2 linked regions of the Homo sapiens genome follow. The protein of the gene in region 1 purifies or fractionates together with the protein of each later gene. This does not show direct contact. Each region holds a gene or a part of one and is shown in the gene's direction. Other genes may lie near its edges.

Region 1 (7,028 bases):
AGGCTAGTTTGGTGCCTGGGTGGCCTGACCCTGGCCCTCTGTATCCGGAGTCCCCTCAGTCTGGTGCTGCCTCTTTCTGGCCTCCACACATCCACTACGAGTTTGCTTAAAAACTTCTGGCCTGTCTTTGAGGAGCGATAAGTTTGAACATGTTGCTATTAATTTTTGCATGAATTCAACAAGTGTGTTATTAGCCTTCAGGAATGCAACAGGACGGAAATAGTCCCTGCCCCAAAGCACCTGTTCCTTCCAGATGCAAAGCAGGAGTCAAGTCGGGACTGGAGGATGTTAGGTTGTGACTAATGAAAAGGCTGCCCCTGGCCTTTAAAAAGTTGAGGTGGAATTCACATGCCACGAAATTCACCATTTTAGAGGGTACAAGCCAGTGGGTTTTAGTCTATTCACAAAGTTGTGCAACCATCACACCTATCTCATTCCTGAATATTTTTTCTCTCCCCAAGAGGATACCCTCTATCCACTAAGCAGTCACTTCCCATTTCCGCCTCACCCCAATAACCCCTAATTAGATCCTGAGTGACCCCTGGGTAACCACCAATCTACTTTCTGTCTCTGTGATTTGCCTGCTTTGGCCATTTCATAGACATGGAATCATACACTCTGTGGTCTTTCCTGTCTGGTGTAACTCACGTGGCATCGTGTTTTCCAAGCTCACCCTTGTTGCTGCCTAAGTTGGCACTTCCTTGTCACGGCTGAGTGGCACTCCTTTGTATGGATTGGCACATCACGTCTACTCATTCATCAGCTGATGATCAGGTCCTGGCCTTTCAAACTGTTTCTGCGAAGTCATCCTGTTAAAAAATATTTTGATATGGTCAGACCTTTGGTCATAGACTTACTAAGGATTCCAACCTATTCTGCCTGAATGATTTTATGACAAAATCCTTCTGCATCATTTAAGCAACACTTCCACTGCAATATTGGGTGGTTGTCAAATTGTCCCATTTCTGGAAACGACTCTGTCTCAAGACCTTAAGTTGGCTGAAGGGTTCTCACTCACCACACTCAGGTGTAGCCATACAGGCTCCTAACCAGAGTCTATATGTATTCTTTGGAACATTCTGTCTCTTCTTTCTCTCTCTCTTTCTCTTTTTTTTTTTTTTTTTTTTTGAGACAGAGTCTCACTCTGTTACCTAGGCTGGAGTGCAATGCGGTCATCTCGGCTCACTGCAACCTCCGCACCCCGGGTTCAAGCGATTCTTCCGCTTCAGCTTCCCAAGTAGCTGGGATTACAGGTGCTCACTCTACCCCCACGCCCAGTCAATTTTTGTGTTTTTAGTAGAGACAGGCTTTCACCATGTTGGCCAGCAGGCGGGTCTCGAACTCTTGATCACATGATCCCCCCTCCTCAGCCTCCTAAAATGCTGGGATTCCAGGCATGAGCCACCAGCATGAGCCACCGTGCCTGGTCTCTCTCTCTCTCTCTTTTTTTTTTTTTTTTTTTTTTTTACTATTATTGTTTTTATTATTTAATAGCTGGGCTCATAGTACCATTTCCTACTTATTTTTTTCCCTCTCTGAATTGTTGAGTCTGGCTCTGCTGCCATTTGATGTAATTCCTGGAGACTTAGCTTCATTTCAGGCTTTTGCTAACATGTGTCTTCTTTTTTTTTTTTCCACTGTTTTAAGGTCATTTATTAGAACACAGTCATTCAGAAGCCACTGAGACATCAGGCAGCAGGAAGGAAGGTGGGGTGGAGCAGGCCCTGTGAAGGACCAAGGACAAAGTAATAGCCTCAGTTATGAAATTTCATTTTATTCTGATAAAGACTAATGTATGCCTGATAACCTAGTGATAATCCACAAGTTTGGTAGTTCACAACATTTTTAGAAAGCACGTACGATTAACATTTAAATAAGGCATTATAGAAAGTTTTATAAAGAATGAAGTGTGTACTATAATTCTTTTAAGAAACTTTGGTTCATCTTGAAAGATCAATGAATTTTTAAAATATCAGAAGAAAAGGAAAATAAATTTTTTTCCCCAAAAATACATAAGAACTGCTTACTGGCACTTGTATTTTAAGTACCTGGGGAAAAAATGGAAAAGATTTTTAAAGGCAATTAATAACAGCTTGTACGAGGGCTTGTTTCATTTGTTCTGGCACCAAGTAAAGAGTAAATACGCCATGGAAGACGCCATCAGGTTTTCCGTCCACCTCTCCTACTGCCCCACTTCTCCCAGACCACACAGCACATCAGCAGCCATCCTTGCTGCCCCACTCAGGAATCACTTTAGATTCCAATTTTCTTTGTTTGTTTGTTTTTGTTTTTTGTTTTTTTTTTTTGAGACAGAGTCTCGCTCTGCCCCCCAGGCTGGAGTGCGGTGGCACGATCTAGGCTCACTGCAACATCCACCTTCCGGGTTCAAGTGATTCCCCTGCCTCAGCCTCCTGATTAGCTGGGGCTACAGGCGCGCCATCCAGCCCGAGTAATTTTTTGTATTTTAGTAGAGACGGGGTTTCACCATGTTGGCCAGGATAGTCTCGATCTCCTGACCTCATGATCCACCCGCCTCGGCCTCCCAGAGTGCTGGGATTATAGGCGTGAGCCACCACGCCCGGCCTAGATTCCAGTTTTTAAATGGCTTCTCAGATGACACCAACAGAGTTCTTTCCCTTTAAAATAAGGTGGCAGTGAATGCTAACAGGTATCGATTTCTTGGATCAGGAACAAAGAACTCCTTCAGGAAACTCACTTACTGGTCCTGGTTAACCTATTGTGTAAAGTCTTTTTATTGGCACACCTGTTTACTAATTATGATTGATTGCTATTTATGCCAAGGGAGCGTTTCCCAGGCATATCTCATCTATTTACTAACGACAAAGTGTGCTTACTTTATTTACATAGTGCCACAGGTTTTCTCTTTTCTCTCTTTTTTTTTTTTGGCAGGGAGTGGCACTATAACTTGTTATTTATCAGGGCGGATCATACATTTGGATCAAAAAGAGGAACCGGCAAGTAGATCCTAAAACACATTTCTCAACCTGAGTCACATCTGAAAACATATAGATTTTAATTACATTTTGTTGAAAATTCATTCAACTTCGGTGCTTGTCCAAGAACTTATAATGTTAATTTCTGACATAAATCATAACCCTCAGTACATATGTATTTTCAAAGGAAACAAGTCATCTTAAAGTAATATTTTTCTATATGCGAATGGATACATTGTTGTAGCAAATTGAAAATTCTGAGTAAACTGAAAGTATGCTTAACAACAAAATAAATACAGCATATATGGTTAGCATACACATTTCTTAGTAGCAGAGGATTTGTGTCTTACAACAAATCTGTAAACCCACTTGCTTTCTTTCTGGTATTTTATATAGTGTCTCCCCATGTTCCACAACGCTGGAGATGTCTTTTGTGGCATCGATCTGTGCAAACATTTCTGATCACATATTTTCCCCCAATGACATGTAACTTTTTTTTAACTTTTCCGGGAAAATACGGAAGCTTTATCAACCACTTATTAACTGAACAAAAACTTAGATTACTACCAAATGCTCTTTTAATTTTGCTCCAACAGATGTTTTAAAAGTTCAGACATCACTGATGTTTTTGAGGATAGCTGCGTAAAACACACTAGATGATTTCAAAGGATGAATCTTAGTATCTGACTCATTTGGCACATCCTTAGTATCTAGAATCAAATCAGTAGAAATAAAAGTCATATAATTTTCAAAGAATTCATACATACTGGAATTCTTAGGAAAAGCAGCTTCTAAATGCAAGGACTATGAGGTTTGCCCATCTTACTACTAATAGTTCCACACATTTCTCCTTATAGAGTAACTGAAGCTTCCTGGCTTGTTTGAGGAACGTCAGTTTGGAGGAAAGCATATCCACAGGGCCAAATCTTGTTGGTTTCTGTTCTGGAGAATGTTTCCAACACCGCTTTTTTTCTGGTAATAGTCCAGGACTGGCTTTGTTTGGCTTCATAAGCCTTTAGTCTCTTGATAACCATCTCTGGTTTATCATCCTCACGCTGAATGAGCGGCTCCCCTGTCAGAGCATCAATGCCCACAGTTGTGGGAGGGTTGAATCCAATGTTGTAGACTTGGCCATTGGTGAGATGAATCCAGTGAGCAGTAAGGCGTTGTTTAATGACCTCAAAGGACATATTCAGGTTAATCACTGTGTCGGTCTGATCAGCTTTATCTAGGGCTTCTGCCTGTGGAAGTGTCCTTGGAAAACTATCCAACAGCTAGACTGGGTGAGATTTTGCAGTTCCTGAAGGGCCACGCCAAGATGACATCATTTGGGATGAGTTTCCCTTGGTCAATGAAAGCCTTGGCTAACACGTCAATTTATATATATATGTATATATATATATAAAGTTCTGGGGTACATGTGCACAATGTGCAGGTTTGTTACATAGGTATACATGTGCCATGGTGGTTTGCTGCACCCATCAACTCGTCATTTACATTAGGTATTTCTCGTAACGCTATCCCTCCTCCAGCCCCCGACCCCCAACAGGCCCCGGTGTGTGATGTTCCCCTCCCTGTGTCCATGTGTTCTCATTGTTCAATTCCCACCTATGAGTGAGAACATGTAACAGGCCAATTTCTGCGCCCCGCAGCATGTTGTCCCGGAGCAGGTCCCCGCTGGAAAGGTGCTTTAGCTCGAAGTATTGAGTGATACGCGACGACACAGTGCCCTTGCCCGAGCCGGGGGCCCCCATGATCACCACACGCAGCAGCCGCGAGGACACCCCCGTGGCCGCAGACCGAGGCCCACGCCGCGCTGGCACCAGGGCTTTGGCCTGGCCCGTGCTGGCCGGCTGGCAGCGCCACTAGCAGGCGGCGACCGCTGACATTTATCTTTGTCTCTTTTCAGGTCGATCCAGTGTTTACAAGGGAAGTGAAAGCCAAAGTGAAAAGGTAAGAGTTGGTGGAGACCAGTCATTTTGCAGAACGGGAAGCCTGAGTGGCCCCTGGGTTACCTGAACTCACATTTATCCAGTCCCAGGCACTATTCCAAGCAGTTTCCAACTGTTTCCTCATGCATCTTCCCGGCGAGCCCGTGGCATCCTAGGCACTATTATTTGCCCAGGGAAAGGCCAATAAAAATCACTTTGTGATTATAATTTTTAATGGATCACATTGGCCAGAATGGAAAGATTTAAACTCTCAAGGATTTGGAAGAATGGAGGGGTATTGCCCTTTGTCACAGCCTGCCTGGAGGGCAATTTGTTGGTGTGTTGGTTATAAGTTGCATTTGTCGGCCAGGAACCCAACAGCACAGGCTTGAACAGATTGAACTTTCATTGCTCACATCAACAAGTCTGAGGGTGGTCATTCAAGGAGCAAAACGGAGGCTTCCCTGAGACCTCAGGGATTTGGCTCCTGTCTCTGTCCTGACTTCCTCAGCCTGTGGCTCCCATCCTGAAGGTGACATGGTAGCTATAGAGCTGTGTCATCAGTCTGCATTTTAAGTGGGGTGATGGGAATGAGCAGACCAGAAGGATGTGGGTCTTATTTGGGTCAGCCCCCTGTAAAGTGGTGTCTTCACAGCCCCCCAGGATTCCAGCCAGACTCATTGGCCACACCAACCACAAAGGGCACTGACAAAGACTGTTTTTTCCCCATCTATAATCAGGGATCTTTAGATTGCTCCTAGGTGCAGACGCGTGTGTGCAAAAGTATCACCTGCTCGGGGAAGGGAGGCCTGGCAGAGCCATGAGAGTGGTGGCCAGCGGTGGGGACGGGGAAGATCGAAGAAAGGCGAAGATTTACATTGTCTGGTGAAAAAAATAGAACAAGGCAAAATGTCTATGACAAAATAGCTGTCAGCGCTGTGTGCTGGGAACAGGGCTTTTGTGACATTATCGTCTCTAGTATTTCTATTTCCATTCTTTTTTGTTGTTGTTGTTGTTGAGACAGAGTTTCGCTCTGTCGCTCAGGCTGGAGTGCAGTGGCGTGATCTCAGCTCACTGCAAGCTCCACCTCCTGGGTTCACGCCATTCTCCTGCCTCAGCCTCCTGAGTAGCTGGGACTACAGGCACCCGCCGCTGCGCCCGGCTAATCTTTTGTATTTTTAATAGAGACAGGGTTTCACCATGGTCTCGATCTCCTGACCTCGTGATCACCCGCTTTGGCCTCCTAAAGTGCTGGGATTACAGGCGTGAGCCACTGCGCCCGGCCTCCTTTTTTTTTTTTTTTTTTTTTTTTTTTTTTTGAGACCTAGTCTTGCTCTGTCATCCAGGCTGGAGTGCAATGGCACAATCTCAGCTCACTGCAATCTCCGCCTCCCGGGTTCGAGCAATTCTCCTGCCTCAGCCTCCCAAGTAGCTGGGATTACAGGTGCGCACCACCACGCCTGGCTAATATTTGTATTTTTAGTAGAGACGGGGTTTCGCCATGTTCGCCAGGCTGGTCTCCAACTTCTGATCTCAGGTGATCTGCCCGCCTCAGCCTCCCAAAATGCTGGGATTACAGGTGTGAGCCACTGCACCCGGCCTATTTCTATTATTTCTATTCTTATTGTCTCATTAGTATTTTAAAGAATTATTTGAAAAAAAGTTGAATTATTAGAAAAATGTTCTCTAAATCATGCAGAGAAAATGGCATGAACCTTGTCTCTGACTCTTCTAGTCCTTGAGAGCAGGTGTCTTTATGGAGCATATGGAAAACAAAAGCAGACATGTTAAGCAACTCCCTCCCTCCCTTGTCAGGGACATGAGCTGTAAGGATTTCCACCCCAGTATAGTTCTCCTGGCTGAACGCTTGGTCAACAATGCTTACTTGCTGATCTAGAGTATTACACCCAAATTGTCATCTCTCCTCCTCCCAGCTGCCTACCCATGAGATTCTTGGAATCAGAGCCACTCTTCCTGCTTTGTGTTTCAGAGCCGCTGGGGTACGATTGATTGGAGAGATGCCTCAAGAAGATCTGCACGCGGTGGTGAAGAATTGCTTCGCGGTGGTGAATAGCTCTGTCTCTGAAGGCATGTCAGCTGCAATTTTGGAGGTAATTATGTAACTCGAGTACTGAAAGTGGGA
Region 2 (7,028 bases), on another chromosome or scaffold:
ACAGCACAGGTGCACAGGTCTTAGATATACAGCTCAGTGAAGCTTCAGAAATGCATGCATGCATGTAGCCATGACTCAGATCAAGATACGGAAGAGCCCAGCACTCCACGATGCTCCATCATGCCCCTTTGCAGAAAATACTGCCTCCTCCAGTAAACACTATTCTGATGTCACTATAGATTAGTTTTGCCTCTTCGTGAACTTTGTATAAATAGAACTGAACAATATGAACTGTCCTGTGTGATTTCTTGTATTTCATTATGGGTGGTGTGCTATTGTATCAACAGGGTATTTGGGTGGTTTTCAGATTTGTGATATTAACAATAAAGGAATTATAAATATTGTAGTACATTTTGGGGGTGTCTGGGTACTCATTTTCTGGATATATACCTAGGAAGTGAACTGTTGTGTTATAGAGTAATTGTGTGTTTAGCCTTATAGATTCTGCCAAACAGTTTTCCAAAGTGATTCCAGCAGTTGACAATCAGCAGAGTATGAGAGTTTCAGTTTTCTCCTCTTGATAATTCTCCTCTCGATAGTGTCAGTCTTTTTTTTTCCTTTTTTTTTGTTAGTGTCAATCTTTATTTGAGCCTTTTTGTTGAGTGTCGCAGTATCGCATTTTAGTTTCAATTTGCATTTCCTTGATGATTAATGAGATTGAACAGTTTATTGACTTTTTTTTTTTTTTTTTGGTTTTCTTTGTTTCTTTTGGAGAAGGGCTTGTGAAGGTCTTTTGCCCTTTTAAAAATTAGATTGAAGGAATTTTTTACATACTTTGAATATAAGCCCTTTGTCAGATATATGGATTCTGAATATCTGCTCCCAGTCTATGACCTTCATTTTTATTCTCTTACTTTTGTCTTTTGATGAACAGAAATTTTTAATTTTAGTGAAGTCTAATATCTCAGTCTTCTCTTTTATGAGTAGTGCCTTTTGTATCCATTTAAGGAATCTTGGCCTACCCCAAAGTCATATATATATGCTTATATATTTTCTTCTAGATGTTTAATGTTTACTTTTTACATTTAGGCCTATCATCTATTTTGAATTATTTTTGTATATGCTATGACTTATGGGTCAAGCTTCAGGTTTTTCTCATGTGGTATATCCAGTTAGTTAAACAGCATCAATTCAAAAGGCTATCCTTTCCTCAGCAAATTGCAGTGGTGTCTTTGATATAAATATACAATACATATATATATACACACACACACACACACACACACACACAATGTGTATCTGTATATACAATCAGGTGATTGTATATATGTTGTTTTGTTTGGGGAATTAAGTTTCATTTACATATTTGTCTTTTTGTCTTCCCTTATATCAATACTATTTCACCTCAGTTACTAAAGCTTTATAGTAAGTCTTCAAATTAGGTGGTATAATTCTTCCAACTTTGTTTTTCTCAATATTTATTTAAGTTACTGATTTCTCTGAGCAGTATCTTTTATTTTCAGGGAGAAGACCTCACATGCCATTCGTTAAAATTATTCTTAGATATTGATGGTTTGGGAAGCTATTTTTAAAATTTCAATTTAAGCTTTATGGCATGTAACGAAAAATATTTTCCCCACGACCCCAAAAGTTTTATCTTTAAGCTAGCAAAGCAGTAGTGTCATTATTTTAAATAGCCAACAGTACCTTCATTTTATGAGATGATTGAGAATTTGTGAAAATCAGTAGTATTTATCAACAAAAGTGGCTAGTTTTGTGTGCTGCTTCTTTAAAAAACTCATTTAAAAGATAGCATACTGGAAATATGTACTTGCTGCCTTTATGGAAAGCAAGTCTAATTCCTTTATTATGTAAAGAACTCTAGCAACTCAATACCAAATAGAAATACCTTATGGATTAAGAAGAATAACATGATGTATAAGTGGTGTAAATTTATATAATTATTATAAATTATTATAAATGTATAATAAAATAACTAGAATTTCACCAAATTAGAAATTTAATGGAAATAAAATACACATTGGATTTGGGTGAAAAAAACATGTTGAGCTTAACATGTTAATGTTAAATGGGACAGAAATACAATGTGCTGCCTACTTTTGAATTAAATGCTAAATAGCAGTATTATACATTTTGGGAAAATATTCAAAAAATAAAATACCCTAGAATGGAGTTTCTTGGCAGCTCTGTACTAATTTTAATAGTTCTTGAATCTCCTTTTTCACCTTAGAAATTTTAGTCACACTTTAAAAATCTGGGCAAAATATATGTCCAGCAAACAGCCAAGAGCCAGATGTATTAAATGATCATATTTACGCTCCCAAAAGAAAATTCAAAATGAAGCATGTTGATAAACATTTTGGATGTGATGTTGGAGAACAATTGCAACCTGCCCAGATGTTCAGCTCGCCCGAAGGCTGCCTCCTTGGTGACTTGTTTCATCTTGAGTCTAGAGAGTCCAGGCTGGGGAAGAAAACCACCTCCAGCCGGCCGTTCCAGCACAGCCCCACTGGCCAAAGCACACACTCACACAATGAAAACACTGAAACTTTTTCTTAAAACAAATTTTTCTCCCATTGTCATGGTTCTGTATATTAACACAAAATTTTCTTTTCTCATAGGAGAGATTATTTCATTCAATATTTTTTATGAATTATTTACCATTTGTACTTCAATAGTAGCAGAAGACAAAAAAGGTAATTGTGCGCTGAGGGAGGGTGGGCAGCATGAAGCACTACATAAAGAAAAATCTTCTAAATGAAATTAGAACTTCTGAAATTTGGGCTTGCTATGTAAATTCTGTGTATGTTGCATACAGCTTTTTATTTCTTGGTAAAATTTTGTGATTGTACTGAAAATTTTCCTTATTTTCAGACTACTGTACTGCCTATTAAAGTTGATTTCAGACATGCAAAAAACCTGGAAGAAATGTTGCAGGGCTAGAAACATTCTTCTCTTCCTCATAGTTTACTTCTACCCATCTACATGCTTTGATGGAAGTGCTCGCAGGAGGTGCTTCCTTATCTTCGTGTATGTCATGACATCTGTCCTTTTCTTGAGGCCCAGAACACACATTCTCCCATCCTTTCCCAGCCAGGCAACCCAATGGATACCAGCCTCACTTTCCCGTATTTTTCCTGACTGGTTCCCAGAGTACAAAGCACAGGACAACTTCGCTAACTCACCCTGATCTTTGACCTATACTCTGGGTATAAATCTGCCTGTACCTTACCCTTGAGATGTCCTGCTCTAGGGGATGATGCCTGAAGGGAAACATTTGATGAATCACAGTAATTGAGGCTCCGATTTCTGTGTCCTGGTAGAACCATGTGATAGTGAACCAAAACATGACCATTGATTCCTTTTCCCATATTCTGATCTTACCTGGAAACCCGTGCTCTCAGATTTTGTGGGGTTATCTGGCAGATAGACGGTGACAACAGTCCCATCTGGTGAAGGCTTAGGATATTAGGATGTTTCTTACTTCTTATTGTTTGAAGAAACAGTTGTGAATAAAAATTAATCAAAATTAGAGGCCAGGCACAGTGGCTTACACCTGTAATGCCAGCACTTTGCGAGGCCGAGGCGGGCGAATCATCTGAGGTTGGGAGTTTGACACCAGACTGGCCAACATGGTAAAACCCCTTCTCTACTAAAAGAAAAATACAAAAAAAAAAAAAAAGTAGCCAGGTGCGGTCGCACATGTCTGTAATCCCAACTACGTGGAAGGCTGAGGCACAAGAATTGCTTGAACCTGGGAGGCAGAGGTCGCAGTGAGCTGAGATCGCACCACTGCACTCCAGTCTGGCCAACAGAACGAGACTCTGTCTCAAAAATAAATTAATTAATCAAAATTAATTGTCCAGCTTTGATTTAGAATCTTAACTGCTATTACACGTCTCTTCTGTCTACCTTCAAATAGGTCATCTAATACATGGGAGAAACATGGATTTTGGAGTATTTCTTGGGTAAGTAAAGAACAAAGGGTCAGGCATGGTGGTTCACGCCTGTAATCCCAGCTTTTTGGGAGGCTGACACGGGTGGATCACGAGGTCAGGAGTTCAAGACCAGCCTGGCCAAGATGGTGAAACCCCGTCTCTACTAAAAACATAAAAATTAGCCAGGCATGGTGGTGGGCATCTGTAATCCCGGCTACTTGGGAGCCTGAGGCAGAGACTTTTTTGAACCTGCGAGGCGGAGGTTGCAGTGAGCCGAGATCGCGCCACTGCACTGCAGCTTGGGATACAGAGCCAGACTCCATCTCAAAAAAAAAAAAAAAAAAAAGAACACAGAACTGTTTTGGTCTGTAGGAAGAGTAGGTTGTGTTATATTGATGATAAGTAAGTCCCAAGTCACACCCAAAATGTGATCATAAGTGAAGATAAATGGATTGCTTGAGTGCTGAGACAAGAGGGACATGCTCTTCTATTTTATGTGTCCATCTTGACCTTTCTGAAAAAATAAGAATATTGTAATTAGCATTCTATGTTTGAATCTGAGGCTCACTATTTATAAGCTGTGTGATATTGAGAGAGTTACCTGACTTCTCTGAACCTCAATTTTATCATTTGGAAAACAGAATAAATATACCATATTGTAAAGGTCTTGTTAGGATTGATCGTGGTGACTCGGTAAATAAAGCTCCTAGTGTAATGCCTGGCCCTCATCATCATGTTGATCATTACTATCACTGTGTTTCTGAAATGTCACTGAAACATGTCTTTTATAGGTGGAACATAAATAATGATACCTGGGTCATAACTGAGCAACTAAAACCTTTAACAGTGAATTTGGATTTCCAAAGAAACAACAAAACTGTCTTCAAGGCTTCAAGCTTTGCTGGCTATGTGGGCATGTTAACAGGATTCAAACCAGTAAGGAGTCTGTTGTTACATAATTATACAGGTAGCCTTCTGTCCTGTTACCGTTATGTAAAAGTTGAAATCTAAGAATATGAGGACCTAAAGGGAATATGAAGCCCCATTTCACCCCCTTGTACTTCTTGTCACTTCATAGGTATGAGATCTCGTGGTAGAGAAGAGTAGAAAGGAAACGGAGGTTTCTGAGCCTCTTCTGGGATAAAGAGCATGTGGCTGGGTGTCAAGGGCTGGGAGTCACAATCTGATTTCTAGTCCTGGGTCTTCCGCTCACTTAGGCAAGTCAGGCGTTCATTCTCTGCCCTTCAGTTTCCTGTCCAAAAAGCGTTGCCAGTGATACCCCACCTACTTATCTCACATACTAGAATCAAAAATGCTTTGAACTTTTTAAAAAGCCTTTTATGGTTTTGATTTATTTTTGCCTTCCCCATTACCCAAGCTAGGCCTTTATATCCCACTCTGAAGTACAGTGAGCGACAGGGCCTTAAAGCGCATGGTTGATGTTTCTGACTTCGTTGCTTTGTCTTTTTCTCAGGGACTGTTCAGTCTTACACTGAATGAACGTTTCAGTATAAATGGTGGTTATCTGGGTAAGTAGAGCATTCTCAAGTGAAATGGGAATCTCAGAGCTTTTTTATGAGGAAGGCTGGACTGTGCCTTCTGGTTACAAAGTCCAACCTCTTCCGGTTCCCGACTGGTTACAAAGTCTAACCTCTTCTGGTTCCTGACTGGTTATATAGTCCAGCCTCTTCCGGGTCCTGACTGGTTACATAGTGTCACCTCTTCCGGTTCCTGACATTGTGTTCATCTCTTCCAGGTATTCTAGAATGGATTCTGGGAAAGAAAGATGTCATGTGGATAGGGTTCCTCACTAGAACAGTTCTGGAAAATAGCACAAGGTAAAGTGTTTCGTTGCTTTACTATTAAATATTTATTTTAAATTACTCATATTAAAAAATAAAAATATTTGTCAAGCTCCAGCTTAATCCTTTGAGGAACTATTGCAGAATTTCTTAGGTGAACCTCTGACACTCATGTGGAATTACTCATGTTTTCTTCGTGCAGACTGTGTGTTTTATAGCAAATAAATGAATTACTTAAAAAGCACTAGGGATACTGACATTATGAAAGGCACCTATGAATATTTTTGGTGTACAGAAAAAAAATGACCCACACACAAAAGAACAGTCATACAGTAAAATCTTCATTTAAATGGTAGTACAGACCAGGCACAGTGGCTTATGCCTGTAATCCTCACGCTTTGGGTGGCTGAGATAGACAGATGACTTGCACCCAGGGGTTTGAGACCAGTCTGAGCAACATGGCGAAACCCCGTCTCTATAAAAAATACAAAAATTAGCCAGGCATGGTGACACGTGCCTGCCTGTAGTCCCAGCTACTCAGGAGGCTGAGGTGGGAGGATCACCTGAGCCCAAGGAGGTCGAGACTGCAGTGAGCTGGGATCAGTCCACTGCACTTCACCCTGAGTGATAGAGTGAGACTCTGTCTTAAAAAAACAAAATAAATAAATACAAAATGTACTACATATTAACCTGTAAGTTATATCTTGCCTTGGTATAGAAATCTTACAATAGCAAAACTGCCTTTCCTTCATTCAGCCAGCACTGCGTCCAAATAAATGGGCATCAATCCTATTTTTAATACTTCCCAGGGAATAAGATTTAATGTTAGTAGTGTTCTTTGATAACCCACTTCAATTTTTAATAGTCCTAATTTTCAAGAAGGTTTACTTTCTGTTCTCTAAGTCCTACATACTGTAATATTATTTCCCTTTGTTCTGTTGTTGAGTGAAAGGCATGGACAGTAAGGGTGGAAGATGATCTCTTGAGGCCACTTTGTTTCTCCTTCAGATTAGAGGGGCTTCCTAAGATTCCCGCTTCCCATCTCAGTGTTCACCATACAGGGTCAGGGATTGCTTTTCCCAGAGGCATTGCTCACCATCCTTTTTTAGAAAACACATTGTGGCTGGCCATGGTGGCTCATGCCTGTAATCCCAGTACTTTGGGAGGCGAAGGCAAGAGTATCGCTTGTGCCAAGGAGTTCGAGACCAGCCTGGGCAACAGAGTGAGAGCCCATCTCTAAAAATAGAAATAAATAAATAACACATTCCTTAGATACTTGTTTTTCTTTAGTTTCTACAGAGCTAAACATTTCCGTTCTAAGTCATCT

What was found. The genes of interacting proteins can lie anywhere in the genome.
Region 2: the proteins of GLT1D1 (region 1) and ASAH1 purify together in Homo sapiens (affinity purification with mass spectrometry; 2 studies listed by BioGRID and IntAct, with this or other methods). This does not show direct contact.

What each region holds. Positions count from the first base shown.
Region 1 is NC_000012.12:128,940,463-128,947,490, forward strand, and holds part of GLT1D1 (glycosyltransferase 1 domain-containing protein 1 isoform 2 precursor), read left to right. Parts: intron 1-4,863; coding exon 4,864-4,907; intron 4,908-6,875; coding exon 6,876-6,996; intron 6,997-7,028.
Region 2 is NC_000008.11:18,060,086-18,067,113, reverse strand, and holds part of ASAH1 (acid ceramidase isoform a preproprotein), read left to right. Parts: intron 1-2,582; coding exon 2,583-2,657; intron 2,658-3,883; coding exon 3,884-3,929; intron 3,930-4,690; coding exon 4,691-4,835; intron 4,836-5,373; coding exon 5,374-5,428; intron 5,429-5,655; coding exon 5,656-5,737; intron 5,738-7,028. UniProt on the Homo sapiens protein: Lysosomal ceramidase that hydrolyzes sphingolipid ceramides into sphingosine and free fatty acids at acidic pH.